Linked DNA regions of Homo sapiens. The protein of the gene in region 1 interacts with the protein of each later gene in a pairwise test. Each region holds a gene or a part of one and is shown in the gene's direction. Other genes may lie near its edges. The genes, in order: RNF10, HIP1, LAMP2, UBE2E3, PRPF40A, CASP6 and COQ8A.

Region 1 (4,371 bases):
ATAGATGACAATTTCTGCTGAGGGTTTATTGGTAGATCCTGACAGTCTAGCTTTTTCCTGTCTTTCCTATTTCTAGCTGCCAATTTGTGGTGTCTGAAGACCAAGACTACACAGCTCATTTTGCTGATCCTGATACATTAGTTAACTGGGACTTTGTGGAACAAGTGGTGAGTAGCTCAGCCAAGCCCATAAGCTATGAATGGGAGCACTAAATAAAGGCACTGTGGTGACGCAGCAGCTGTTGGCTGTGTGCACTGCTTGATACCCTTTTCTGCCTGGCCTTTCTATAGATGTTTCCCAGAGGTCAGTTCCTGGTTCTTCCTGGAGTCCATTTTGTGACTAATTGGCTCTGGCCTGTAGGGATGGTGTATGAAAGGCTCTGATCTGAAGATGTGTAAGCTGGGAAGTAGTAACCCCTTACCCTCCTGATCTGGGTTGGGCTCATTACAGGGCCATTGCTTCATTGGCAGCCATTCGTAGCAATCACTATCAAAGTAGGCCTCAGCCTTGTGGCAGGGAGGCACATGAATGAGCCACACAGTTGTACTTTTCTTTTTTGAGAAAGAGTCTCACTCTGTTGCCCAGGCTGGAGTACAGTGGTGTGATCTTGGCTCACTGCAACCTCTGCCTCCAGGGTTCAAGCAATTCTCATGCCTCAGCCTCCTGAGTAGCTGGGATTACAGGCACCCGCCACCACGCCTGGCTAATTTTTGTATTTTTAGTAGAGACGGGGTTTCACCTTGTTGGCCAGGCTGTTTTTGAACTCCTGACTGCAAGTGATCCACCCACCTTGGCCTCCCAAAGTGTTGGGGTTACAGGCGTGAGCCACTCTATCTGGCCCAGTTGTACTTTTTTTTTTTTTTGAGACGGAGTTTCGCTCTTGTTGCCCAGGCTGGAGTACAGTGGTGCAATCTTGGCTCACTGCAACCTCTGCCTGCCAGGTTCAAGCGATTCTCCTGCCTCAGCCTCCCGAGTAACTGGGACTACAGGCACGCACCACCACTCCCAGCTAATTTTTTTTTGTATTTTTTTTTAGTAGAGATGGGGTTTCTCCATGTTGGTCAGGCTGGTCTTGAATTCCTGACCTCAGGTGATCCTCCCGACTTGGCCTCCCAAAGTGGTGGGATTACAGGCATGAGCCATCGTACCTGGCCTCTTTTTTTTTTTGAGACAGTCTTGCTCTGTCGCCCCAGCTGGAGTGCAGTGGCGCGATGTTGGCTCACTGTAACCTCCACCTCTTGGGTTCAAGCAATTCTCATGCCTCAGCCTCCTGAGTAGCTGGGATTACAGGCGTGCACCACTATGCCTGGCTAATTTTTGTATTTTCATTAGAGACGGGGTTCCACCGTGTTGTCCAGGCTTGTCTCAAACTCCCAGCTTCAAGTGATCAACCTGTCTCGGCCTCCCAAAGTGTTGGGATTACAGGCGTGAGCCACCACGCCCAGCTTCAGTTGCACTTTCAAAGCCACTGATGTGTTTTCTACTGAAGTTATAAACTCTAGGTATCCCCTTGTTGGTCCTAGTAGGGTATCTGTTGAAGAATAATAATTTCAAAATGATGGGCACTTTTTCTTTATGAGCAGGGGCTTTTGACCTTAAAGCTTGAACTCTCGCCGGGCGCGGTGGCTCACGCCTATAATCCCAGCACTTTGGGAGGCTGAGGCGGGCGGATCACGGGGTCAGGAGATCGAGACCATCCTGGCTAACACGGTGAAACCCCGTCTCTACTAAAAAAAAAAATTAGCCCGGCGCAGTGGCGGGTACCTGTAGTCACAGCTACTTGGGAGGCTGAGGCAGGAGAATGGCGTGAACCCGGGAGATGGAGCTTGCAGTGAGCCGAGATGGCGCCACTGCACTCCAGCCTGGGTGACAGAGTGAGACTCCGTCTCAAAAAAAAAAAAAAAAAAAAAAAAAAAGCTTGAACTCTCACTACTGTGAAAATGTATAAAATCATCTGAGAATGACATAGCATAAAAACTTAAGTTTTATTAAAAAAAAATGAAGTCTTTTTAATGCGTTCTTTGTTGGAAGTTACTGGTAGATTACTTCTAGACCCTTTTTAGGCCTTTATGCATACATATTAAGTTTTTTTATAAATGGGAATATAGTGATTTGTCACTTTTTTCTATTTAATGTAGAACCCCCAACATACCTGTTGTGTATTAGTTTTATTATATTTAACGGTTATTATGGTTTCCTTGATGCTTTGCTTAAAGAGCTATCATACAAAGCCAGGCGCGGTGGCTCACGCCGGTAATTCCAGGACTTTGGGAGGCCGAGGCGGGCGGATCACAAGGTCAGGAGATCAAGACCATCCTGGCTAACACAGTGAAACCCCGTCTCTACTAAAAAATTAGCTGAGCGTGGTGGCAGGCGCCTGTAGTCCCAGCTACTCCAGAGGCTGAGGCAGGAGAATGGCGTGAACCAAGGAGATGGACCGTCTCAAAAAAAAAAAAAAAAGAAAAAAATGATCATACATGTACCTACGTTGTAAACAATTTTAGAAAGATATGTTGAGTATAAGGATGTACGGGGATAGAGATGAGAGAGATGCGGATGAGAGAGTAGAGAGGCCTAAAACTTTGACAGTCCCTAATCAGTTCTTCAAGCAGTGAACCTTCTGGTGGCATTTTGTTTCAGCGCATTTGTAGCCATGAAGTGCCATCTTGCCCAATATGCCTCTATCCACCTACTGCAGCCAAGATAACCCGTTGTGGACACATCTTCTGCTGGGCATGCATCCTGCACTATCTTTCACTGAGTGAGAAGACGTGGAGTAAATGTCCCATCTGTTACAGTTCTGTGCATAAGAAGGATCTCAAGAGGTGAGATTGAGACATTTACTCAGTTAGATCCCAATCTCTTCACTCCTTGCCCTGCTACATATGAGTGTCCATGTTTCAGTGTTGTTGCCACAGAGTCACATCAGTATGTTGTTGGTGATACCATTACGATGCAGCTGATGAAGAGGGAGAAAGGGGTGTTGGTGGCTTTGCCCAAATCCAAATGGATGAATGTAGACCATCCCATTCATCTAGGAGGTGAGTTCTTTAAATTTTGGGGACAAATAATCCTGGGTACATTCTTTAAGGTGATTGAATATATCTAAGCATCAGAAAGTGAAGCCTTTGGGCAGGGCACATCTGGCATGTTCATATTAGTCATAGGATTCCAGTAGGTTAGGGTGGGGTTTGTAGAGAGTAGATTAATTATTGGTTTCAAGTTTGTTTAATCTATACATCCTAATTTTTCATTTTACAAGGTTTTATTACATAGTGTCTTTCACTGTGCCCAATCTTAGAGGTTCTGTGGTCAGCCAGTCTTGGTGCCTGTCGTCAAGAAACTCAGTAGTCCGATAGAAGAGACAGACTGGTAGACTGGCCATTAGGATAAAGAGTGTGATAAGTGCTCACAATGAATGCCAGAGATGTATTCCCTGTGTTTCATGCAGAAATGAGCATTTGATTAAAATAGCATTTCAGTCTCTGGGGAAAAGATAGATTTCTCAATAAATGGTATTGAAACAATTGATTCTCCCTAAGGAAAAAATAAAATTAGATTCCTATTTCATACCATTCATGAAATTAATTCCAGATAGATTGAAGAAGTAAATGTAAAAAATCCAAAAGTTTTAACCTTTTTATTTAAAAGAAAATATAGGACAATTTCTTTATAAATCCTCAGATGTGCATCTGTCTGAAGGATTGTGTGTTCTCATTTGGGTGGTAAATGTGTGTGTGTAATATTTTTTTCCTAGTGATTTTGACTGTTTAAATGTTTAGCAACTTAAAACATTAAAAATGTGTATTAATTAAAAAAAAATCCTCAGATATGGGTGGATTTTTGAACCAGGCTGAAATGATAGATGCTGTAAAAGACTGATAAATTTTATTTTTATTTTATTTATAGATATATAATATAATATGTATATATATATTTTTTTTTGAGACAGAGTCTGGCTCTGTCACCCAGGCTGGAGTGCAGTGGCATGATCTTGGCTCACTGCAACCTCTGCCTCCCGGGTTTGAGCGATTCTCGTGCCTCAGCCTCCCGAGTAGCTGGGACTACAGGCGCCCGCCACCATGCCTGGCTGATTTTTTTTGTATTTTTAGTAGAGACGGGGTTTCACCATGTTGGCAGGCTAGTCTCGAACTCCCGAGCTCAAGTGATCTGCCCGCCTTACCTCCCAAAGTGCTGGGATTACAGGCGTGAGCCACTGTGACCGGCCAAGAAAACCACTTTTAGTGTCCACAGAATTTTCGTTAATGAACATACCATCATGTCATTAACCCTTTATTTGAGATGGAATCTCACTTTGTCGCCTGGGCTGGAGTGCAGTGGCAATAATTACTTTTAATTAATTAAATTCAT
Region 2 (4,371 bases), on another chromosome or scaffold:
TAGTGATAGAAATTAGGTTTGTGAAAGTTTCCACCCGTGAGTGGTATGTTTCCCTGCTATCCAGGGACGGCCCAACAGGAGAGTCTAGGTCAGTGTTTTCTGGTGTTTTACATTCTGTGGGACATTTGTGATTGGCCAGATTTGACCTGGGTGGGGTGGGTGGGGGTGAAGTAGAGTGGAGCAGAAAAAGAGAATTTTTCTGATGTTGAAACTCTTATTTTTAACTTTTTTTTTTTTTAAGACGGAGGTCTCACTGTGTTTTCCCAGGCTGGTCTTGAACTAGCCTCAAGCGATCTTCCCACCTCAGCCTCCCAAAGTGCTGGGATTTCAGGTGTGAGCCACTGCACCCAGCCTCTGGTGTTGAAACTCTTTAGGGGTGTAGGAGAGTAAAGAAAAAGAACCAGCCTGGACAACATAGTAAGACCCCATCTCTACAAAAAATAAAATTAGCTGGTTGTGGTATCACGTGCCTGTTGTCCCAGTAACTTTGGAGGTTGAGGTGGGAGGATTGCTTGAGCCCGGGAGGCAGAGGTTGCAGTGAGCAAAGATTGTGCCACTGCATTCCGGCCTGGGCAACAGAGTGAGACCCCATCTCAAATAAAAAAAAAAGAAAAAGAAAAAGAAAAGAAAAGAAAAGAGAACAGCCCTAAACCCAACGTTAGTCAATCTGCAAAAAAATTATTTTGTTTAATGACTACCTATCAAATGTATTATGAGGTTGCAGAGCTTGGTAAGCAAAGGGAAAAAAGGGGAAGAATGTATTATGAGATATAAAAAATGAATTAGAAAAAATTTAATGAGTTAGGAGACCATGAGAATCAGCCAAGGTATAATAATAACTAACTAATTATTGTGTTTGGCAGTATTCTAAGGACATCATTGTATTACCTTTTTAAATCTTGACAAGAACGGATGAGGTGGGTATCAGCCACATTTTACTCTCAGGACGATTGAGGCACAGAGAGGTTAAGTAACTCACCAGAAGTCACACAGCTGGAAACGGTCTCAACCTTTACCCACTGCCTCAGGCAGCCTCTGAGTACTGAGCAGATGCTGGCATTGGAGTTAGAAGGCATTTGAGGCTTACAGCTGGGCATGTACATGGGCCTTGTGGTCTCTGGGAAGTTGTCTAACCTTTCTAAGCCTCGGTTTCCTTATTGTCAAATAAACATAATACTTACCTGGCTGATTTATTGTGGGGATTCAATTAAGCCCAATATGCCTGAAGGCATTTTGTAAACTGTGGAGCACTAGTTCAGTGATTATTGTTATAATCTGACTGGGGAGACGAACCCGAGACAGCAGAAGTGTGAGCAATCAAGCAGGCTGTGATTAACTCTTCCTTAGAGGGATAGATGTGGTACTAGGTAATGGGATAATTACCAAGAGCACGTGGATAAAGCACAGGCTTTGGGGTTGGGAGCCCTCCCCGAGGACTGAAGCACATCTTGTAGCATGAGTTAGTGCTTGCTGGGTGGAGGAGGGGATGGGGCATTCCAGTGACAGAAGAACATAAATAAAGAGACATCTAGACTAGGCAGATAAACTTCCCAGCGGGTGCAGTGGAGACTCATTGGCTGGGGTAGACAGAGAGGCAAAATTGGCCACTCCCTCCTCTGAACTATAGCAGGGCTGGTGACCTCTCCTAGTTCCTGTGACCTTGTGCTGGCATCATTTCTCTCTGTGGCCCCCATTGAACACTGAGCTTATTGAGGGCAGGTCTGTGTCTTGCTCTTGCCTGCATCCTGAAGCTCATGGTTAGTGGTGAATGGGGTCAGCAAGGGAACCCTGGGCCTAGGTGGGTAGTTCAGCCCTGGGCCACAGGATATATTAATAATTACTTTATTTATTTTTATGTAAGAGATGGTCTCGCTCTATTGTCCAGTCTGGAGTGCAGTGGCACCATCATAGCTCAGTTTTGCCTGGGACTCCTGGGCTCAAGTGATCCTCCTGCCTTAGCCTCCTGAGTGCTGGGACTACAGGAGCATGCCACCATGCTTAGCTGATCTTTAAAATTTATTTATTTATTTATTTATTTATTTATTTATTTATTTATTTGAGACAGAGTCTCACTCTGTTGCTCAGGCTGGAGTGCAGTGGCGCCATCTCGGTTCACTACAACCTTCGCCTCCTGGGTTCAAGTGATTCTCCTGCCTCGGCCTCTCGAGTAGCTGGGATTACAGGCGAGCGCCACCACGCCCGGCTAATTTTTTGTATTTTTAGTAGAGACAGGGTCTCACTTGTTGACCAGGCTGGCCTCGAACTCCTGACCTCAGGTGAGCCGCCTGCCTCAGCCTCCCAAAGTGCTGGGATTACAGGTATAAGCCATCGTTCCTGGCCTAGAATTTTTTTTGTAGAGATGGGGTCTTGCTGTGTTGCCCAGGCTGGTCTTGAACTCCTGGGCTCAAGCAGTCCTCCCGCCTTGGCTTCCCAAAGTGTTGGGATTACAGGTGTGAGCCGCCGTGCCCGGCCTATAATTACTTGTTTTCTTATAATGCTCCAGGGTCGCTGTTGGTCTAGCCTTGCCTCCCGCATACCCAGTCTAGAGCCTGGCCACATGCCCATCAAAAGACTCTCACTGCTCTGCCTGCCTTCTTCTGTCCTGGCGTCTATACCCTCAGACCAGCCTTGCATACCTACTCCTGCCAGCCTCCTCCAGGAAGCCTTGCCTCCTCAACTCTCCTGCACCATCCTCACATTTCACCTGGCCACTGTCACTGCCAGAGGAGGCACCACTGACCTGCCTCATGGCCCAGCCACTGCACCCATCTCCAACCAGACCCTTGGTGTGTTCCCCACCCAATCCATCACAAGCCACTTTCAAGCTTTAGGGAAGTGAAAAGTACTGCCTGCCCTCAAAAAAAAAAAAAAAAGAAAAAGAAAAGAAAGGAAAAGAAAAGAAAACCCAGCCGTAATAAGGAGACCTTATCAGGAGTACTTTACAGTTTATAAAGCATGTTTCTAGCCATCATTGGGACCACACGGTGGTCAGTCATTATCATTTTCATTTTATGGATGAGGACATCGTGACTCAAAGAGCTTGGTAACGTGCCCAGGGTCATCCCACGGGTGAGTGGAAGGGCCAGGATTCAAAACCAGGACTCCAGGTTCCAAGTGTCAGGCCCGTTCGACCACACTGTCCTCCCACCAGCCAAGAGGGCAATTCTGGAATCAGCCAGGAGGGCTGTCAATCACAGGACAAATAAAATAGTCTGTTTTTACTTAGCTGGAAAATGGTTTTCTCCATGGTTTGTTTATTTCTTCAACATCCGTTTAGTGAGCACATACCGTGGAGGAGACACAGAGATGAGTAAGATAAAGAGACCGGCTCTGGGGGGCTCGTGAGTCAGCAGGGAGGCAGACTGGCCACTGCGGGGCTCCTGGACAAGCCTTGGGGCTCTGATGTGGTCAGGCCCCGAAACACCAGCATCACCAGGGCCATTAGGATGTTGGGCACCACCCAGAACTACTGAATCAGGACTTGTCGTGTTCACCACAGCCCTGGGTACTCTGTGTACGCTGATGTTTGAGCAACAGTGCTCTGTAGTAGGTGAGTTCTGGGATTAGAGGAAAAGACACAGAGTGGGGAACAAACCTTTAGAGAGTCAAAATCTCTTTGGGTGAGCCGGGCGCAGTGGCTCATGTTTATCATCCCAGCATTTTGGGAGGCTGAGGCGGGAGGATGGCTTGAGCCCAGGAGTTCGAGACCAGCCTGGGCAACATAGCGAGACCCTGTCTCTACAAAAAAATCAAATCAAATCAAATAATTAGCTGGGCATGGTGGTGCTGCCTGTAGTCCCAGCTACTCGGCAGGCAGAGACAGGACGATTGTTTAAGCCCAGGAAGTTGAGGCGGCAGTGAGCCGTGATCACACCACTGCACTCCAGACTGGGTGACAGAGCCAGACCCTGTAAAAGGAAAAACAACACAAAAAAAGCCAGAAACAAACAAAAAAAGTCGGTGGATAGCGCATACGTCAGAGCAAAGGATCTTAATGCATCCTGCGTTGAGAAGAGCCTTAGATCCTAGAGAGAAAGAGATAGAAACAAATATTTATTGAGGGCCTGCTGGGTACCAGGAACATGCTGGGTGATTTATATCTATGATTTCATTTTAATAGCTCAGGCTCAGAGAGGCTAAGTGACTTGTCCAAGGTCACACAGCGAGTGAACCGAGAAGCCAGGACTTCACAACCAAATGGCAAAGTCCTTTTTTTCATGTTTACGTTGCGGGTACTTCTGCCCTCTTGCTCATGATCTTAAGCAGATGCTCAGCCTTAGTTCAGCAGCTAAAAAATTTTAGGGCTGGGCTAGAAGGATCTGCGGTTCTCAACCCTGGCTGGAGAGCTCTTTGAAAAAATAAAATACTGTT
Region 3 (3,695 bases), on another chromosome or scaffold:
AAATACATGCAAATAACAAGATTTTCTTACCTCTCAGTTGTTGAAACACTTTGCTTCTTAAAATTGATATGTTGAAACTTTAATTCTTTTATCAATCCCAGCATTTTGAGATCAGTCTTTATTAATAAAACCTGTTCTCTTTAATCAGCTTAAAATCCAAAGTGTCATATTTACTGGTCCTGGAGACAAACTTGTTCAAAAGAACATCAACGTGCAATGTTTTAAGGTCTATCTTAAGAAGCCCTGGCCAAATTTTGATCCTAACCTTGAAGTATGCCTTGAACTTATTAACATGGCCATTATAAGAATAAAATATGTAGTTGTGTCTTAATGGAATTAATAAATGTCATTTCACTACTGGTGTTCTGTTTCAATGTATAAGGACTATAGTGATTTAAACTCATCAATGTGCCTTTGCATAAAGTTCATTAAATAAATATTGATGTGGTATAAATGCCCATCAGATATGCTTAAACTTGGTTTTCAGTTGAATGAAGTAGAGAATGTCCTCAGGACCATCAGCATTTTAAAGGTTATGTGACTTTTGCTGATTTCTCTGAGTTCAAGTTAAGCATGAAGTTAGTACCTCAAGCCTGTGATTTTTCCCTAGGGATGATACAGACCCAAGAGGCTACAACAGAACTTAAACTGGCTTCGTAATTAGAGTTTTTAAGATAATTGTTTGTTTTTCAGCAATATAGACTGAAAAGATCCAAGCATATTTAGCCACTTGCTTTTTTGTTTCTTGTTTTGTTCTTCTTTGGATGCCTGATTAGTATTGAAAGATAGAAATATTCTATGAACTAATTAGGACAGATTGTGTTGTGTTTCTCTACCTCATCTTGTTGATCTCTGGAGCATTAAAATCTATTTAGTGTTGTCATCAGTGTGGTACTTATGAAATGTAAGCTAACAGCAATCTCAGAAGGGAGGCAGTGAAGCATAGCAACTAGGCTCTTGTTTCTTCAAGATGGCCCCTGTGGGGCAGTGCATAGATGGGGGTGTAAAGAGAAGCTGTTGGCATTAAAATGAGCTAGATAATCAGCCCTTGTTGAAGCATATTCCATGGTATAAGAGTAGCACAGACATGAAACATAGATAAAGAAGGAAGGCTTAATAGACTAGAAGACTTCCACATTGAAGTATTATTAACCCATTGTATGTATATAGGGGCATGATCAGAGTCTCTATAACTTCCTGATTAACAATACAGTGTATCTTGTTACCCAGCTGTCAGTCTTTGAGAGCTTTCAGTAAAATATAGTAAATTCTTTCAGCATAGGCTAATGTGTGGTTACTGAGATGAGTGTTGTGTACTCAGAACCGTAGCAACATTTTTATGAATGGTAAAAGTACAAGAGGAGGAAAAGTTAAAATTAGAAGAAAAGTACAAGTTATTGCTTAATCATAAATCACACCAGATAACACATTTTGTTAATTTCATTAGCTATTACTGGAAAGGACCTTAACGATTATTTACAGAAAGGGGAGTGAAATTCATTGAGGTTCCATATCAAGTGGGCAACAAAACTATTACTAGCATTTTGATAAAAATTGCCCCTAATGAAATCTAGTCACTCAACAGTAAAACAACAGCTGGTTTACACTTGAAATTATGAGATCAGAATTGGGCACTTTGGGCTTCCGTACTATGTTTTGCTTAAGTTTTTTTTTTAATACTAATATGGGCTTTTTCAGTAGTAATATACCAAAACACTTCTATTTTAATCTCTGTTTGCTACTTCAAAACCTAATCCTCCTCAGATGGGATCATGAGCATAAGAGGAAAAGAGAAGAGAATGAATACTTGTTGACCTCTTGATGTGTATCAGATGCTTTAGAAATGTAATTGTATTTAATCCTCAAATACCTTATAGGTATTATTATCCCCTTCTTACAGATGAGGAAAGTGAGGCCCAGTTTAAATAACTTGCCCAAGGTCCTTTGGCTAGTACTGGAAGGAGTCAAGATTTAAACACAGTTCTGTCTGAATCCAGAACTCAAAATCTACATTGCACATGTTGCTTTCCTGGTGGTTCGGTGGAATGGACTGCAACGCATTAGATACTGCTGTTATTCTTCCAGGCCACCGCTCAGCTAAAAATAATTGTGTGTGTGTGTATATATATATATATGTACACACACACACATATATATACACACACACATATATATACACATATACATATATATACACATATATATACACACACATATATATGTATATATATACTACATTCTTGATCCTAAGTCTTTTTTAACTTAAATTTTATTACTTATACAGAATTCTTATTTATACTTTAATTATAGGTGTGACGAAGAGAAAGAGAGTAGGGAAATACACAGGCAGTGGTTTTAAGTGTAGATGATGGCTCCTTAACCCAGTGTCATTAGATAATCAAACCTAAAGTCTTCCCATATTAGGCAAGCGCAATTCTCTATTTTGGACCCTTCCCATTCTTCCCTTACCTTCTGCTTTTCGTACTGAGGAATTTCGTGTGATTTTAGATAAAGTGATAATGAGATATTGAGCAAATAAGAAAATAGAGGTAATGCTATAAAAAACTAAGCTATGTACACTTTCAAAATGCATGTTTCTTGCATGCTTTTTACTACTTAATTGCATTCTTTGCTAATTTCCTTTCCTTGCTGTCTGTTCTTTTCTAACAGCTGAAGAATGTTCTGCTGACTCTGACCTCAACTTTCTTATTCCTGTTGCAGTGGGTGTGGCCTTGGGCTTCCTTATAATTGTTGTCTTTATCTCTTATATGATTGGAAGAAGGAAAAGTCGTACTGGTTATCAGTCTGTGTAATCAGTTAAATCTAGTGTTTGTTTGTTTTTTTCAATTAGAAGTTACGTTTCCATTGGCTAAAAGCCAGGACATGCTGTGCAATAGATTGTTTAAGATATGCAGACTAACTTCAGTGAGTTCCTAGCTAACTTGGGCATGAGTACACTTATTTAAGACAAAATATATTAGGACCAATTTTTTTCTGTTTTTTTTCTTCCTTTGTTAAAGTATAATTAAAAGAAAAATTGTGGCTTAGAATTTTTTAAGTAAATAATGATTTTAAGCCCCTGGATCCAATTATGAAAGCATTTTTGCTGATGTGTAATTTTATATGTTACAGTTACTTATATTTTACTACTTTGATGTTATTTGCAAAATCAAAGGTGTTAAAGAATTTAACTTGCTTCAGGAAATAAATTCAAGAACATAGTGGATTCATTTTCATTGGTGGCAGACACGAAATTTGGTTCATGATAAGACTTCCTTTCCCCACCTCCTGATCAGCATTATTTAAATCTGTATTTTTCTGTTAGTTAAGAAAGAAATGGCTTCATGATATTGTATTTAATAGCAAAAGTTTGGCTGTCTTCTTCATTACTGTTAATAGCTACTATATTTTAACAAGGAGATTTCTTTTTTTGTTGTTGTTGTTCTAGAGTTTGGAATATACTGATTATCTCAGACTTGACATTTATACTGAAGGATGAAGTAAGACCTCCAGCTTTTTTTAAAAAAGGTGTTGATTTGGAACACCTGTATGGGTTATGGTTTATTAAGGTTATGGTTTAGAAAGTTTTTTTCCCTCAGAGCCTTAACTTGTTAAGAAGGTTCATTTATCCTGCACTGAAAACAAAAACTCTATATACTTTGTTTGTGTGCCTCCTGCACTCTCCCATTCCCTAT
Region 4 (4,371 bases), on another chromosome or scaffold:
TTGTGGACCAGGATTTAAACCACCTTAGTTCTATGGTCCAAATGTGTTTCAAGTTCCAAAATACCTGATTTCAGAACAAATTTTTGGAACATACTCGTTTATAAAAGTTAGTAACTCTTTTTATAAACCATTACTTACAGAAACATTGACCTCTTATTTTAATATATAAATATTTGCTTGTTCTAAAATTTATTTGTATTTTTTAAATTAATAGCTTTTTCTGGGCAGTTTTAGGTTCATAGCAAAATTGAGTGAAAACCCCTTGTATCTCTGCCCCTGCACAGACACACAACCACCCCTGCTATTATTGTCCCACACTACAGTGGTATAGTTGTTACATTCCAATCGATAAACCTACATTAACACATCATTATCATGCAAAGTCCCTAGTTTTCATATGGGTTCACTCTTGATGTTGTACATTTTATGGATTTTTACACATATATAGTGACATATCCGCCATTCATACCATACAGAAAAGTTCACTCCCTTACAGATCCTCCGTGCTGTGCCTCTTCATCCCTTCCACCCCACTAACCCCTGGCAACCACTGATATTTTTACTGTTTCTGTAGTTTTGCCTCCAGAATGTCATATAGATGGAGTCATACAGTATGTAGCCTTTTCATATTGGGTTCTCCCACTTACTAATATGCATTTAAGTTTCATCCATATCTTTTCATGGCTTGATAGCTCATTTCTTTTTAGCACCGAATAATATTTCGTTGTCTGGAGGTACCACAGTTTATATATCCATTCACCTACTGAAGTAACATCTTGATCACCTTCAAGATTTGGCAGTTATGAATCAAGCTGCTATTCACATCTGCATGCAGAATTTTGTGTGGACATAAGTTTTCAGTTCATTTGAGTAAATACCCAGGAGTGTGATTACTGGATCTTATGGTAAGATATGTTTATGTTTGTAACAAGATTGCCAAACTGTCTTCCAAAGTGGACATCCAGATGCATAAAAATGAATCTAGATATTTTGCATTTCCTGTACCATTTTGTATTCTCCACTAGCAATGGATGAGAGTTCCTGTTACTCCACATTTTCTTCAGCATTTGTTGTTGGTGTTTTGGATTTGGGCCATTCTAATAGGTGTGTAGTGGCATGCTTTTCTTGTTTTAACTTGAAATTCCCTAATGACATGAGTTTGAACAGTTTTTCATACGCTTACTTGCCATCTGTTTATCTTTGGTGTGAGGTATCTGTTCAGGTATTTCACCCATTTTATAATCAGGTTGTTCATTTTCTTTAGTTTTAATGGTTCATCGTATATTTTTGATAACAGTTCTTTATCAGGTACATCTTTTGCAAATATTTTCTCCAAGACTGTTGCCTGCCTTGTTCTCTTGACATTGTCTTGCAGAGCAAAAAAAATCTAGGCTGCAGTTACAGATTTGGAAGTTAAGAGCATATTGGTGGTATTGGGAGCCGTAAAACTGCATAAGATAACCAAAACAGTATATGTAGGTAGAAAAGAGAAGAGTGTAAGGTCTTAGCTCTGGAGGACTGGTGATATTTAAAGCTTAGGGTGATAAGGAATAGGAATAGAGAGTGAGAACGAGGGGCCAGGAAATGTAGGAAAGCTAACAAAGTATGTTATTCTAGGAATGAAAGAGAAAGTGTATCAAGGAGGATGTGATTGGCTGTGTCAAATGTTGCTGGACCAGTCAAATAATATGAAGATTGAGAAATGATCATTGGGTGTAGTGATGAGGTCATTGGTGACTTTGGATAAGAGCTGTTTCAGTGGAGTAATGGGAGGAAATGCCTGTTGGGAATGAGTTCAAGTAACAACAGAGGAGAGAAACTGAAGATAGCAGATGTAGATAAGATTTCCAAGGAGTTTTGCTGTCAAGGAAAGATGATTGAGATGGAAACTCGAAGGGAGAGAGAAATAGAGATTTTAAAAAATAATAATAAAGTTGGGAGAAAGGGCATTGTTGGATTCTTATTGGCATCACTCACCAGAGAAGGAAAAATGGATGATGATTCAAGACAGTGGAAGAGACAGAGAGTGTCGGTCAGTTGCTAGCCTCTAATATGATTTGTTTAAATTACAGTGGACTCAGCCCTGCAACTGCTCATGTCCCTTCCTGACCCCTTCCCATCTTGCCGTATGTTTTGACTAACAGATGGTACATTTATGAGAATGAAAAGAGGCCCCTAATCCAGACAGGTAGCCAACACTACCTGGATTTTAGGACTGGATTTTAGCCTTCACTTGTCCTAAACTAGGTGTCTTTGGGTACAGCAAAGTAATCATACTACCATAGCTTCTCTGCTTAGTCTACTCCAAGACAATAGGAAAAGTTATTTACTATCCTGCAATAGTTAAATGTACACTTTGTCCTATAGTTAAATGTACACTTTGTCCGATGGCAAATAGCATGATAAGTGGGAAGAGAGCACATTTAAGAACTAAGAATTTGGTGTGGGAATCCAAGCTCTTCTATCAACTGGCAGTAAAATATATTTGAGGAGAGTTTAAGGCGTATGAGTCGTCTTACCAACAAGTAATTATGAGTTTAGATTTTATTTGAACTATCTCTCTTGTTTGTATTTTATAAAGTAATGGTGTGTTAAGCGCAGTGCACCAAAATGTAACTAAGACTTAGTAGCACCTAGGACTCAGATCTTGGTTTTTCTTACAACATTCGCACTGAAAGGAACCCTGGCTCTTTGGAAAAATGTTTGATTCCAAGGATGGGATTCCTTATGCCAAAGGAAGGAAATGCTTAAAAAAAAAAAAAAAAAAGATGCTAACATGTTGCAAGGATATAGGAGTCATTTTGAAAGGGTTCCCCATCAGCCAAATCTGCAATAATTTGGGTATCAAAATAATTAAAGTCAGTAATGACTTATAAAGCATTGGGAAAAAATGAGACCATACCAGTAATACTTCTGTACATACGTACAGGCAGGAGAAGAGGCTCAAGGGGTAACTGTTAAGTGTAGAGAAAGTTCTAGAATTGGAAAATCATGATTTTATTGCTGTAACAGAATACCTGAGACTGAGTAGGTTATAAGGAAAAGAGGTTTATTTGGTTCACCTGATGGGCATCTGCATCTGTTGAGGGCCTCAGGCTGCTTCAACTCACAGTGGAAAGGCAGGCATCAAGTGCAAAGAGATCACAAAGCAAGAGGAAGCAAGAGAGAGAAACCAAGGAAAGCCACTCTTTTTAACAATGAGTTCTCTTGGGAACTAATTCATTCTTGCTAGAGTGAGGACTCACCCCTGAGGGAGGGCATTAATTTATTCATGAGGGATCTACCCCTCTGACCCAGACACTTCCCAACATTGCCGCGTTTGGGGGTCAGATTTCAACTTGAGTTTTAGCAGGGACAGATCAAACCATAGCAATCACAAATGGATGCTAAATCTTGGGAAGAAATTTTGATAAGAAGCAGGATATTTGCCTGGTCTTGAAGTGTCTGTCCAAATATTGCTTATTGGTTGCAGGGAAAAGATAGTAACTAAGCAGTAGGAAAATTGGATAGCAGTTTGTCTGGATGATGAAACTTAACATCACCAATGAGGTACAGGTAGGTGCTGTGTGCCTCCAAATGTGATACCATGAGAAGGACACATACTATTTCAGCCAGACACCTACTATTTCAGCCAGAAATGCGTTACATGAATCAAATCATGAGGAAACATGGCAAGCTCAAAATGATGAGCATTTTTTAAAAAAGAAGACTAGATTCTGCAAAAAACGTTAATGTTATAAAAGTTAAAGAAAGGCGGAAAGGACCCATATTAAAGGAGAATAAAGACACAGGAAATAACGTGGTTCCAAGACTGGGTCCTGCATCGGAGAAAAATTAATTTTTTAAAAGGGTATTACCGAATCAGTTGACAACATTATAATACAAATTGTACTTTAAAGAATTGTATTAATGTATTTACTGAAATTGTAACTGTATTGTAATTTATAGGAGATTGTTTTTAGGAAATGCACACTGACATGTTTATGGGGAAAAGGCCGTGTGCAACTTTCAGGTGACTCAGAAAAAAGTATGTCTCTATGCATGCTTGCAGGTTTAGAGGGGTGTGTGTTTCGGGAGAGAGAGGAGCAAATGGGGCAGAGCAGAATGCTAATGGAGACTGGGTAAAGTTATACCAATTTTCTTTGTACTTTTCTTGCATTTCCTCTGTAAGTTTGTAATATTTCCAAGTAAGTTCATACACACATGCACATGCAAACACATTGGGGCTTATTTCTTTTATACTTATTTTACTTCTTATTGCTCTAGATTGCTAATTTACCTTTAACACTTCCCTGGTTTTAGGATATTAACATTCATTGCTAATATATGTACATACTGATTTTTAATTTCTTTTAAATAGTGCTGGGCCTA
Region 5 (4,371 bases), on another chromosome or scaffold:
TGTATTTTTAGAAAGTTTTAGAAATTGAGCAGTTTGGCAGCCACATGGATTGATTGACTAATAAAGAAAACTTGAAATTTTTCTTGTAAAGCAGATAGAAGACAGCTTTTAGGCACATTTGAGGTATTATACCACATTAGCTGTGTAGAAAAGAAAGTTTCTGGAAAGTAATGGAATAAATGGTAAGTTTTTGTTAAAATAAGCAATGAAACAATAACATCTCAGGTCACTTTAATAGGTAAGGTTCACTGGGCACGGTGGCTCACGCCTGTAAAACAAGCACTTTGGGAGGCCAAGGTGTGTGCTGATCACCTGAGGTCAGGAGTTTGAAACCAGCCTGGCCAACATGGCGAAATCCTGTCTCTACTAAAAATACAAAAAAATTATCAGGGAGTGGTGGCGGGCACCTGTAATCCCAGCCACTCAGGAGGCTGAGGCAAGAGAATTGCTTGAACCCAGGAGGCGGAGGTTGCAGTGAGCCAAGATCATGCCACTGCACTCCAGCCTGGGCAACAGAGCGGGACTCCTTCCCCAAAAAAAAAAAAAAAAAAAAAGTATTTTGATGACAGTTTCAGTTAGGCCCTTGTAAGTATGCTGAATTGACCAATAATTATTGAATAATAGTATTCGATGCCTATGTGGGCCAGTGTTCTAATTGCTTTATGTATATTATATTTATGAACTGAATCCTTTCAATAAGCCTGTGAAGTTAATAGGTGAACAAACTAAGGCAGAGAGAAGTAAAGTGACTTACAGGGTTGGAAGCCGGGCATGTTGACCTTGGTCAGTGCTTTTAACAAGTATGCCATGCTGTCAGTTTTAGAGTAGCTAATACTTTATAAGCTAAAAACTAGTAGGTGCTTAATATTACAGTGTTGCATTGTAAATGGGCATAGGTCACTAAATTGACTATTTCCTATTTCTTGATTTATTGTTCTTGATTAATATAATGTTAACCACAGTTTTTTCTGTACCATGTACTCACGAAGGCCCTGTATTGTTTCACAGCTGCCTCTAGATGTGGTCCTGTTGGCCTTTTTTTTTTTTTTTTTAAAGCGGGGTCTCTGTCATCCATCCACTCCTAGGCCAGAGTGCAGCGGTGCAGTTATGGGTCACTGCAACCTTGAACTGTTGGATTCAAACAATCCTCCTAAGTAGCTGGAACTGCAGGCACGTGCCATCACACTTGGCTTTTTGTGGGGCTTTTTTGGTTTTTGTTTTTATAAAGATGGGATCTTGCTGTGTTGGGCAAGCTGACCTCAAGCAAGTCTCCTGCCTTGGCCTCCTGAAGTACTGTGATTATAGGTGTGAGCAACCATGCTGGGCCTCTAGATCTTTTCTGTGCCAAATGTAGTGCATACCAGAAGCATCTGCATTACCTAGGAGCTTCTTAGGAATGCAGAACCTTAGGCCCCATGGGGCAGAAATCCTGCGTCTGACTTCATTTTAACCAGATTCCCAAGCATTAAAATATACATTTAATTTTGAGAAGCTCTGCTCTAGATAGTGACTAACCTATTTTCCCCCAGTTCAAGAGTCTACAGATTCTTTCATGATCTATACTGGGGGTAAAGTAGTTAGGTGGTAAATGGAGTAAAAATGGTACCATAGGGAAGGGCTGAACACATTCAGATTTTGGGGCCTTAATAATCTGAGGCTTGAGGTATTAAAGAAAGGTAGGTTAGCATTCAGTGAGATCAAAAGGAGAATAGTCCATTCTGAGATCCAGATTTTCCATTTCCACTTCTGTAACTGAGGTAGAATTTATTCTCAAAGCCATAGAAATGTTTAGGGGCAAGGAGCTTGTACTGTAGCACCCCCCATCACTGCTAACCTAGTAATTGTTTTAATAAGTAGAAATCCACAAAGACAGCATATGGATGTCTAACAATGTCTTGTTTGAGGAGGAAGGAAATGGCTCCTTGGGGGAAATGAAAGAGGGGTAGCAGATTTTGCATTTATTCTGACATCAGCCTTATATATCTCAATTCAAGGATGGCTCTCAGGTTGTTCTTTATCTTAGTGCTTGGCCTAACTTGCTGACCAAAGCCAGATTGATTACAAAAACCATGTCTGAGTGTCATTGTATTTGACTGTCATTAAAAGCAGATGTCACTGCATATTACACTTTTCTTCTAAATCACACCATTCTCTTCCTTAAAAAATACTTTTTCAGGCTGGGCACAGTGGCTCACGCCTGTAATCCCAGCATTTGGGAGGCCGAGGTGGGCGGATCACAAGGTCAGGAGATCGAGACCATCCTGGCTAACATGGTGAAACCCCATCTCTACTAAAAATACAAAAAATTAGCCGGGCATGGTGGCAGGCGCCTGTAGTCCCAGCTACTCGGGAGGCTGAGGCAGGAGAATGGCGTGAACCCGGGAGGCGGAGCTTGCAGTGAGCTTAGATCACGCCACTGCACTCCAGCCTGGGTGACAGAGTGAGACTCCATCTCAAAAAAACAAACAAACAAAAACTTTTTCAGCTGGGTGCAGTGGCTCATGGCTGTAATCCCAGCACTTTGAGAGGCCAAGGCGGGTGGATCACCTGAGGTCAGGAGTTTGAGACCAGGCTGGCCAACACGGTGAAACCCTGCCTCTACCAAAAATGCAAAAATTAGCTGGGCGTGGTGGTGTGCACCTGTAATCCCAGCTACTTGGGAGGCTGAGGCAGGAGAATTGCTTGAACCTGGGAAGCGGAGGTTGCATTGAGCCAAAATCGCACCACTGCACTCCAACCAGGGTGACAGAGCGAGACTTCGTCTCAAAAAAAAACAAAAACAAAAAAAGCCCTACTTTTTCTACTAACAGTTTTTAACATTGTTTTGTTTAGATGTCTAAATGAGTGGGTATAGGATGGGCAAGAAGGAAAAGAAAAAAAAATTGACAATTCTTCACAGTTTCAAGGGATTACATTTCTATATATTGTAGAGTTTTACTCTAAGAACTTACTTCCGTAGCTTTTTAAAGATTCTTTACAGTCTGTCTACAGTAAGTGTAAATTCTTGAAATTTTTTTTTTGTCCCCGTAGCATGAATGTCAGCATCATCATTCAAAGAACAAGAAACATTCTAAGAAATCTAAAAAACATCATAGGAAACGTTCCCGCTCTCGATCGGTAAGGGAATTTATTATATGGTGTCATGAGTGTATTAAAGTGTTAGCATTATTATGAATGAAATTATTTGTGTTTTTTAGGGGTCAGATTCAGATGATGATGATAGCCATTCAAAGAAAAAAAGACAGCGATCAGAGTCTCGTTCTGCTTCAGAACATTCTTCTAGTGCAGAGTCTGGTGAGCATTTCTATTTATTTGATTAAATCATTGACACTGATATACTCAAAGTCTGACACTTTTTATCCTTTTGTGCTACTCAGAGAGAAGTTATAAAAAGTCAAAAAAGCATAAGAAGAAAAGTAAGAAGAGGAGACATAAATCTGTAAGCAAGCTTCTAATTTTTACGTTTCACCTAGGCTTTTGCCCTTAACTTCCTCAGAGATCATAGAACCTTTTTCTATCTAGTTCTCTGCAGCCCAGGACAGTTCAGGTGGGCACATAAACTTAGAGTTTTGTTGTTGCTCTTCACCTTAATCTTCCATTAAAATCAATTGTTGAGCTTTGAAAAAATACACACACCAGTGTTAGGATCCCCATCCTGGTCTTTAAAATTAATATTCTAGAAAGAGACTCGTGTGTGTGCATGTGTCTCTGTGTATGTATGTATGTTTGTGTGTATGTGTAGATTGCAGCTGTTGTTGAGAACCACAAGTTTAAATGTTAAAACAACCACTCTACTCTTGCAGTTCTTATTCTTAGGTGTACATTAAGATCCACCTAAGGAACTTTTTGAAAATCTGAAGGCCTGGGTATCACCACAGACCTGTTGAATTACATTCTTTTTATTTGAATTTGTGCATATCTAATGAATAACCATTTAAGCACTAACGTTAAATTTTAAATAATTCCTACTCAGCAATTTCAAGAAAATAATTTTATTAATACAGCTGTCTGCCTTATGTGTTAAAGCTAACAGCAGTATACTATGTACATATATAAACCAATATTATATTGAGTTGGTGAGAAATGTAGTATCTGTCTGTATTTACATAATAGATACTACACATCTATTATGTGGTAGTAAGTCTCATGAGTGGTATTTTATCCTTCAGAATATTATCCTTCCCAAGGGAAAGCTGTCCCCATGAATCTTGGGTAAATTTTACTAAATCCTTGAGGTTAACAATTCACATTTTATTTCATCTCTCTAAGAGCACATAACCTGTTACACATAGATGTTCTTAAATATTACCTATATAACAATGGTATCTTCATCAAAATGCTAACCTGTTATTTTCTATTCATACAGGACTC
Region 6 (4,371 bases), on another chromosome or scaffold:
GGTGCACTTTGTGAGAGTGAAGGTAAGTTACAGCTGGCCAGCATCAGAATTGGGATGTCCAGAGCCTAGGTTTTTTTCTACATCCGTAGCATTAACAAACAACAACAACAACAAAAAACTTAAAAAAAAAATCCCTCACTGAGGTTGCCAAATCTGTTAACTTTGAAACTGAATGTATTAAGAGATGGGGTCTAGCTCTGTTACCCAGGCTGGAGTATGGTGACTATTCACAGGGGCAGTCATAGCACACTATGTCCTAGAACTCTTGGGCTCAAGAGATCCTCCTGCCTTGGCCTTCCAGGTAACCGGGACTATAGGCTTGCCACTATGCCCGGCCAGAACGTCATTTTAAACAGATTTTCTTGAGCAGCTACTTAATACTAGTTAGCCATTCCTAAACCTGTAGGTCTTGACTAATGTGAGGGCATATTTGAGACAACCCAAACTCACATCTTAAGTTATTAATTTTAATGTGTCAGCTAACAACTGGGAAGCTACTTCTTTGGCAATATGAGAAACAAGAGTTTTAAAGACCCAAGCAAGAATACATCTCCAGTGTTTTCACCCTGAGGGATATGAGTTAGTTTGCTGAGCAGCCATTTGGCACAGCTTCCATGAGTTAGGTTGTGAGCCGCCTTCGGCTCAGCAGTCAGTATGGAGCAGAAGCCACAGGAGGTGAGCCGCTGGCCTGCTGCCACCGAGGAGGACACTGAGACATGAGTGCTTTCCAAGTTGTGCAGAATTTTGGCATGTGAGGAGGATGGTTGTGACATATGGATTTAATTTTCTTGAAGTTATTGTTTCTTTATACTCTAATTGGTTAAAAGATAAGCAGGTGAGGTTATCAAAAGGCAGTAGATTCCGACAGCTTTTGAAAATGGGAAGAGTGAAATCCCTGTGCTGTCTTCATAGAGCAGTGTGTGGAGTAGGAAGTACCTCGTTACTGTGCTCACCTAGGGCAAAGGTCGGATTAAACAGCTTTCTCATCTGCCATGCAGCGGGGAGGACCAGTTGGAGAGGTTGCTTTTGGCTCTCACACCTTAGTGTAAAAATCACTTTGTGAAAAATGCAGCTGTCACCTCCTTCCTCCAAGATTCTGATTCTGCCTCAGTTAGGATCCAGGAATCTGCATTTTAACATGCACACCAGGAATTCTGATGCCCAAGGTTGAGCAAAACTGACTTAGGGCGTACAGACAGAGGATGCCTTAGTGTGGGGTCTTAGTTGGGTCTCATTGCTTGGGGCAGTTCCAGGAGGAATAGGCTAAAAGGGACTTGAACTGAATTCCCCACCTTGTATTTTTTTTGAGGAGAAGTGAGGTTAGATCAATCAGGTGATGGGGGCTAGTAATGGGGAGATCTCTAAGGAGAGGGGAACCAACCCTTTTGGCTAGGAGATGATGGGTAAGAGTCCATGCTTTAGGGTCATTCTTCCTCAACTGAAGGGTGCATCTTGCTATACTGCTAATATTTCAGTTTATTCATTGCTGTCTCCCCTCTAAGCTGTTGAGCTATCAGGTAAAAACAGATGCATGAGTGGATGGGGCCTTTATTGTAGAAGATGCCACACTTTGCACTGTCCAGTGTAGAAGCCACTGGCCAATTCATTTAAATTGACAATAAAATCGAGTTCCTCAGTTGCATTAGCTGCATTTAAATGCTCAGTAGACACATGTGGCCAGTGGCTACCTTATGAGACAGTGCAAATACGGAACAATTCCACCATCACAGACACTTCCATGACATAGCACTGCTCTAGAGAGTAGAGAGGAATTCAGTGGAAGGCTGTCCAGGGAGTAGGGAGTCCAGTTGAGAATGGAGAGCAGAGGGCTCCCCTTACAGGGTTGGAAATGCAGATGTGTCATGCAGGAGATCCAAGGTCCAAGTCTTTGCCCTTGCCCTTCCCTTCCTCCACCCAAACTTCTACCTCTTCCAGGCTTACACCACTGCTAATCCAGCATTAACCACAAACTATATTTCAGTTTTCCTGTAGGACTTAATTCTTTTTCAGAAAATGTGCAAAAACATTTTCTGCATAACAAAGCAACTTCATATTTCAACTCCGTAATCACAGAACTGTTACTCTAGGCATATTTTGCAGTGAATGCATTTGTGTAATATTTTCTCCATTTCTGTTTATAAGATTGTTATTTTGCAGGTCAAGTTGGGGGTGAGAAAGCATAGAGCTGTTATAGTTTGTTTATTAGTAAGCAGTTTCCCTTCATTTCCTTTTCTTCACATACTTTGGCTTTTAAACTAACCAAAACAGAAGGGTCTTAAGAGTTTGGGAGTCAGAAGGGGGATGGGAGTTCCTACTATATTTTACTGCCATAAGTAAAAAATAATTAACAAAAATCAACTTTTTTTAATAGGTGGGGAAGAAAACATGACAGAAACAGATGCCTTCTATAAAAGGTAAAGCTGTGCTCTTTTCTAATAAAGGTCTCTTCCTTTGATGGTCATGATCAGCCTACAGAAATCAAAGCAAGAATGGGTCCTGGGAGCTAGGAAGTAAAACTGAGTAGGCCAAGTTTTAGCCTTTGGGGAGCTCATTTGTAGATAGGCAGGTTGTGCTGCCCCTGGTTGTCGAGGGACCCGGAGTGATGTTCAGAATGCATATTAATTGGCATGGCATGAGCCTAGAGCTAGAACTTGGTTCTGAGCCTCGTGGTTATTCCTGGTTGCTGGATCCTGGGGGCCAGGGGAAAGACATCAAGGCAGAGGGTTAGGGATGTGTCAGGATGGCACATGGCTGCTCTTTACCAATTGGCAGAGAGATATTTCAGGACTTTCCTTATTAGCATGGCCTTTCCTGGAGCACACCCATGGAACATCAGCCTGGCAAGGAGGAAGCTCAGATCTCTATCTACATGTTGACCTAGAACTTGGAGGGGCTCATTATTTAATATGACTTGAAGTGATTGTTTTTCAACTTTTCATTAACAGAGAAATGTTTGATCCGGCAGAAAAGTACAAAATGGACCACAGGAGGAGAGGAATTGCTTTAATCTTCAATCATGAGAGGTTCTTTTGGCACTTAACACTGCCAGAAAGGCGGGGCACCTGCGCAGATAGAGACAATCTTACCCGCAGGTAGTAGTTTTATCTACCTATCAAGATGAGGCAGTTAAGTGATAAAATTACTTTTGGCCAGGTGTGGTGGTTCATGCTGGTAATCCCAGCACTTTGGGAAGCCAAGGTGGGAGGATCACTTAAGGCAAGGAGTTTGAGACAAGTCTGGGCAACAGAGTGAGACCTGGTCTCTACAAAAAATAAAAATCAATTAGCTGGGCATGGTGGCGGTAGTCCCAGCTACTCTGGAGGCTGAAGGGGGAGGATTGCTTGATCCCAGGAGTTCAAGGCTGCACGGAGCTGTGATCATGCCACTGCACTCCAGGCTGGGCAACAGAGTGAGACCTTGTCTCTAAAATAAAAAATAAAATAATTTTTTTCCATGTTTCCAAATGAAAAGTTAAAAAAAATTAAAAATTAAAAAAATTCCAGACTTCTAGATGTAGGGAAAAGTTACTTATCATAACTTGTCAACACTAATGAGGTAACAACAGATCAAGAGTGTTGGAGCATGGGCCTTGCTTTGATGCAGCCTCCCTTAAGAACTTGCCTGAGTTGGCCGGGCATGGTGGCTCACTCCTGTAATCCCGGCACTTTGGGAGGCTGAGGCGGGTGGATCATAAGGTCAGGAGATTGAGACCATCCTGGCTAACATGGTGAAACCCTGTCTCTCCTAAAAAATACAAAAAATTAGCCGGGCGTGGTGGTGGGAGCCTGTAGTCCCAGCTACTCGGGAGGCTGAGGCAGGAGAATGGCATGAAGCCAGGAGGCGGAGCTTGCAGTGAGCCAAGATCAAGCCACTGCACTCCAGCCTGGGCGACAGAGTGAGCCTCTGTCTCAAAAAAAAAAAAAAAAAAAAAACTTGCCTGAGTTATTTTCCTTACTCTGTTCTATTAAATGTTGACAGGCTTTTGCATTTGTACTAACATTTGCATAGTAGACAACAACACTCTAAATTGAATCGGCTGTCATTATGATTAAATCCTTTCCGACCATGGTGAATGAAGGGAAAACCACCATTGTTATATTTCATTTCTTTTCTCCTAAAGAAAGCAAATTTATGTGTCGTTAAAATGTGTATAGATTCTTCCAAAGTAAGGGTATTTGACAACTTTGAAAAGTTTATAGGCTAACATTTCATTTAATATACCACTAGGTTTTCAGATCTAGGATTTGAAGTGAAATGCTTTAATGATCTTAAAGCAGAAGAACTACTGCTCAAAATTCATGAGGGTAGGTAGTTTTGCTATCATATAGTTCATCTTCCTCTAATGAAACCGAGTCCTTTATCCTATCTGTA
Region 7 (3,622 bases), on another chromosome or scaffold:
ATCTGCGCTGCCTGCCCCTCAGGTCTGGTGACAGCAGGCAGTTAGGCTGACAGCTGCCAGGCGTGGTGTCACAGCACTGGCCGGGGGCCCTGTGCAGGGAGAGGATGAGGGTGGGGTGGGCTCGGGTGTGGCACTTGGCTCCCTGGGATGTCGGGAGCTGAGCTTTTCATGCTGCCCACGGTCCCCTCCTGTGCCTCTCCCCAGATCATCAGGGCTGCTGCCGACAGGGACAGGGAGACTGTGCGGGCGAAATCCATAGAGATGAAGTTCCTCACCGGCTACGAGGTCAAGGTGAGCAGGGTTGCGGGGGATCCCCTGGGCCTGCTGACCCAGGGCCCGGCTCCCTGTGTAAGAATGGATGAAAGCACAGGGGGCAGCTGCCCTCAAGGGGCCCCCAGAGCCCGGGCCTCCTTGGGCACGGTCTGAAAGCTGGGGCCCACCCCGGCCCATGCTGCCCTGCTGAGCGTGAGATTTTCCGAGTGGGCCAGTGAGTTGGGGACTTGTCGTGAAGCTCTTGTTTCTGCCTCTCACTCTTGCCCACTTAGGGCTTGGGGTTGGGCCTCGATTGAGCCAACGTGCAGAGCAAGTGGGAAGGGAAGCCCCAGCCCTCCCCTCATCGAGCCTCCCTGGGGGGAGTTGGAAGAAACCTTAGAAGCCTTTTAAATAAAGGGGAACGGTCTGTGCTGGTGCCGCCTGAAGCCACCCACAAAGTGGCATTTTCCGCTTGCTGCTTGACAGTGGGGAAGGAGTTAAAGAAATCCAGGTCAAGCCTTGGGTCTGCCGTCTCATAGGAGTGTCATTTGAGGCTTGTCAGTATCTCTGAGCCCCCCTTATCTCAGCTGTAAGCGCTCAGCGGGCAGCAGCTCTCTCCCGCCTCTTCCTTATGGCCACTCGCACTGACTCGATTCCTGGCCGCCCCGTCCCTCTGACCACCTTGGGCTGTCCCTGGCGGCAGCTCCTCTCCCCTGCTCTGCTGGCGGCGGCTTCCTTAGGTTGCTAGTTCCCGTGGGCAGACACACGGCTGCTGGGTGTGTCTTGGGTGGACTCTGGCAGGCTCAGACACGCATGGTGGGAGGCCCTGCCAGCTTAGGCCCACGGACTCTGTTCTTTTTGGCCAGAACAGTGTTTTGTTAAAACTCTGTATGAGTGCCACGAGGCGGGACGCATCCTCTGCACTCTGCCACAGGCCCCGCCACTCCCTTTTGTATCACATCAGCCCAGTCCATGTTACCCTCGTGTTCCCGGCCCCTGTGGGTTTGAGTTTATGCCCATTACCATGATGTAATCCAGTTTACAGCAGAGCTTTGAATGAGAACTCAGCGCCCCGGGCACTGTGGGAGGAACCCGGGCTGGTGGAGGGCTCTGGTGTCTCGCCGCCATTTATCCTTCCTCTCTTGCCCCAGGTCATGGAAGACGCCCACTTGGATGCCATCCTCATCCTGGGGGAGGCCTTCGCCTCTGATGAGCCTTTTGATTTTGGCACTCAGAGCACCACCGAGAAGATCCACAACCTGATTCCCGTCATGCTGAGGCACCGTCTCGTCCCCCCACCCGAGGAAACCTACTCCCTGCACAGGAAGATGGGGGGCTCCTTCCTCATCTGCTCCAAGCTGAAGGCCCGCTTCCCCTGCAAGGCCATGTTCGAGGAGGCCTACAGCAACTACTGCAAGAGGCAGGCCCAGCAGTAGGGCTGCGGGCCACGCCCAGGCCGGCTCCGCGGGAACTCTCTCCCTCAGACAGGCCAAAAACCAGTAGCGAGGTCGTGGTGATGCTCTTTTTAACTCCTTTGCCCAATAAGGGGGGTGGCTGCCTGGAGCCCCGTAGCCAGCGCTTTCCACGGTTTCTGTTGCTAAATGGTTGTAGGGTGAGAAGTGCAAGAATGAAGATGAAGCCCCACTGCTCGGTCAGTCTGCCTCCGTGTGTCCTCTGAAATAAGCAGATGAAGATGAAAGGGCAACTTTGTTTTCTTCTTTTTCCTGATGTGAATGTTAAGCAGAAGGGAGAGAGTCCTTACTCCCTTCCAATCTCTGTTCAGTGCAAAACCCAGAAACATGAACAGATACGATTGTGGGATTTTATCATCTGTGTAGTAGGTGTGTGTATGTGTTTCTAGAGTGAGATTTGTGTTTTCTGCCCTTTTCCTCTCCAGCCGATGGGCTGGAGCTGGGAGAGGTGCTGAGCTAACAGTGCCAACAAGTGCTCCTTAAGCCTGCGAGGCCCAGGCCTGTGGGGCTGGTTCTCACCTTTGACAGCTGAATGTTCCTAAAGAACTGCTGCCCCACAGTGAGGGTGGGAGCAGCGGAACAGGGAATGCCAGACACAGGCTCGCTGCTGCTGGAAGGCGGGGTGGGACTTCCTTCCTCTGTCCGGAGAGGCACAGGTGTCACCAGTTCCAGCCAAAGGCTCCTCACAGGCGCTGTGAATTTTTGTACAAGTCTTGTAATTATCGAATCAACAACTTGTTTCAATTTAATAAAAATGCTCATGGGAAGTGCTTTGGCGCGTGTACCCTCTTCTGTATTCTGGAGAATGACGACCCGTATCTTCTAGCTCGTGGTGGTGGTTCTTTTCTGACCTGACGGTCAGCAGGTTCAGTGTCACAGCCCATTTGCAAGGGTTGGGACTGGTTCAGCGTGAGGCCCTTGGCCCTGAACCTGGAAGGCTCAGCCCCGTTCCCTGTAAGAAGGGAGGTGGGAGGGGTGGAGAACAGGAGGAGAGGTTGCGGTGTCACTGCCCCAGCCCCCGGGAGGCTGTACCACACTGCTGAAGCTGCTGTACCTGGTGATGGTGGCAACTGGGAGGACAGTGACACCTGCCAGCACGGCTGATGCCAGGTCTGCATCACAGTGAGACGTCTCCTCTCTAGACATCAGCTGCAGTTGAGGACCACGTCCTGAAAAGTGGCTTTTCCTGGGGCCAGACTGATTCCTAGATAACAGGACACACTGGACACTGAGCTGGGGCCCTTTCTACGGACCTGTGAGCAGTTGAAAGTGCATCTGCAGAATGCACAGGCCCAAAAGAGGCTTTGAGAGGTATAGGCTTTCAGGGTTCTTAAAGAAAGAAAATATAGTTTCTGAAATTTGGGATTGCCGAGTAGCAGACCCAGTGGGCTCCGGGACAGGATGGAGAGGCCTGGGTGGCGTCCGTGAGGCTGCCTGGCTAGCAGCGGCGCCCAGCACCACTGTCAGATCCCTGGCTGAAACTCTTGTGGCCCTCTTCTTAAGGGTATTTGCTGTTGTCTAGCAAACTCCTCTGCAGCACTCAGATCTGAAGCCATCGCCCTGCAGAGTAAACAGCAGGGGAAGAACCCAGGCCAGCCCCAGCCAGGGCTCTCACAGTCTCCTCTTCCTCTTGAACAACAAGCCAAACAAGTCAAGCAGCAGCATGCGGGGGGAAGGGAGAGGAGAACAACAGCAGCCAGCATTTGCTTCCCCAGGAACCACGACCATAACTGCTGGAACAGGAGAAGTTTTCTAAGGGAAAACTGGAATGTGGTTTGTGTGTCCTAAGTCTGAGAGCCGGCTGAGAACTAGAGCCCTCCCTGTGAAGACAGTGGGGATCACTGGATTGCAAATGACTTTAATCCCCAAGTAAAGCTGGCTCTGAAGCTGGCCACACA

What was found.
Region 2: the proteins of RNF10 (region 1) and HIP1 interact in binary tests that used the Homo sapiens proteins (3 or more experiments, as listed by UniProt).
Region 3: the proteins of RNF10 (region 1) and LAMP2 interact in binary tests that used the Homo sapiens proteins (3 or more experiments, as listed by UniProt).
Region 4: the proteins of RNF10 (region 1) and UBE2E3 interact in binary tests that used the Homo sapiens proteins (3 or more experiments, as listed by UniProt).
Region 5: the proteins of RNF10 (region 1) and PRPF40A interact in binary tests that used the Homo sapiens proteins (3 or more experiments, as listed by UniProt).
Region 6: the proteins of RNF10 (region 1) and CASP6 interact in binary tests that used the Homo sapiens proteins (3 or more experiments, as listed by UniProt).
Region 7: the proteins of RNF10 (region 1) and COQ8A interact in binary tests that used the Homo sapiens proteins (3 or more experiments, as listed by UniProt).

Annotation. Positions count from the first base shown.
Region 1 is NC_000012.12:120,554,642-120,559,012, forward strand, and holds part of RNF10 (E3 ubiquitin-protein ligase RNF10), read left to right. Parts: intron 1-76; coding exon 77-167; intron 168-2,640; coding exon 2,641-2,825; intron 2,826-2,904; coding exon 2,905-3,041; intron 3,042-4,371. UniProt on the Homo sapiens protein: E3 ubiquitin-protein ligase that catalyzes monoubiquitination of 40S ribosomal proteins RPS2/us5 and RPS3/us3 in response to ribosome stalling.
Region 2 is NC_000007.14:75,731,933-75,736,303, reverse strand, and holds part of HIP1 (huntingtin-interacting protein 1), read left to right. Parts: intron 1-4,371. UniProt on the Homo sapiens protein: Plays a role in clathrin-mediated endocytosis and trafficking. Involved in regulating AMPA receptor trafficking in the central nervous system in an NMDA-dependent manner. Regulates presynaptic nerve terminal activity.
Region 3 is NC_000023.11:120,427,602-120,431,296, reverse strand, and holds part of LAMP2 (lysosome-associated membrane glycoprotein 2 isoform A precursor), read left to right. Parts: 3' UTR 1-2,670; coding exon of another isoform or gene 2,671-2,813; 3' UTR 2,814-3,695. UniProt on the Homo sapiens protein: Lysosomal membrane glycoprotein which plays an important role in lysosome biogenesis, lysosomal pH regulation and autophagy.
Region 4 is NC_000002.12:181,053,333-181,057,703, forward strand, and holds part of UBE2E3 (ubiquitin-conjugating enzyme E2 E3), read left to right. Parts: intron 1-4,360; coding exon 4,361-4,371. UniProt on the Homo sapiens protein: Accepts ubiquitin from the E1 complex and catalyzes its covalent attachment to other proteins. In vitro catalyzes 'Lys-11'- and 'Lys-48'-, as well as 'Lys-63'-linked polyubiquitination.
Region 5 is NC_000002.12:152,658,016-152,662,386, reverse strand, and holds part of PRPF40A (pre-mRNA-processing factor 40 homolog A), read left to right. Parts: intron 1-3,030; coding exon 3,031-3,117; intron 3,118-3,197; coding exon 3,198-3,294; intron 3,295-3,377; coding exon 3,378-3,439; intron 3,440-4,366; coding exon 4,367-4,371.
Region 6 is NC_000004.12:109,696,343-109,700,713, reverse strand, and holds part of CASP6 (caspase-6 isoform alpha precursor), read left to right. Parts: intron 1-2,371; coding exon 2,372-2,414; intron 2,415-2,945; coding exon 2,946-3,092; intron 3,093-4,227; coding exon 4,228-4,304; intron 4,305-4,371.
Region 7 is NC_000001.11:226,985,050-226,988,671, forward strand, and holds the end of COQ8A (atypical kinase COQ8A, mitochondrial), read left to right. Parts: intron 1-204; coding exon 205-291; intron 292-1,403; coding exon 1,404-1,688; 3' UTR 1,689-2,495; downstream 2,496-3,622. UniProt on the Homo sapiens protein: Atypical kinase involved in the biosynthesis of coenzyme Q, also named ubiquinone, an essential lipid-soluble electron transporter for aerobic cellular respiration.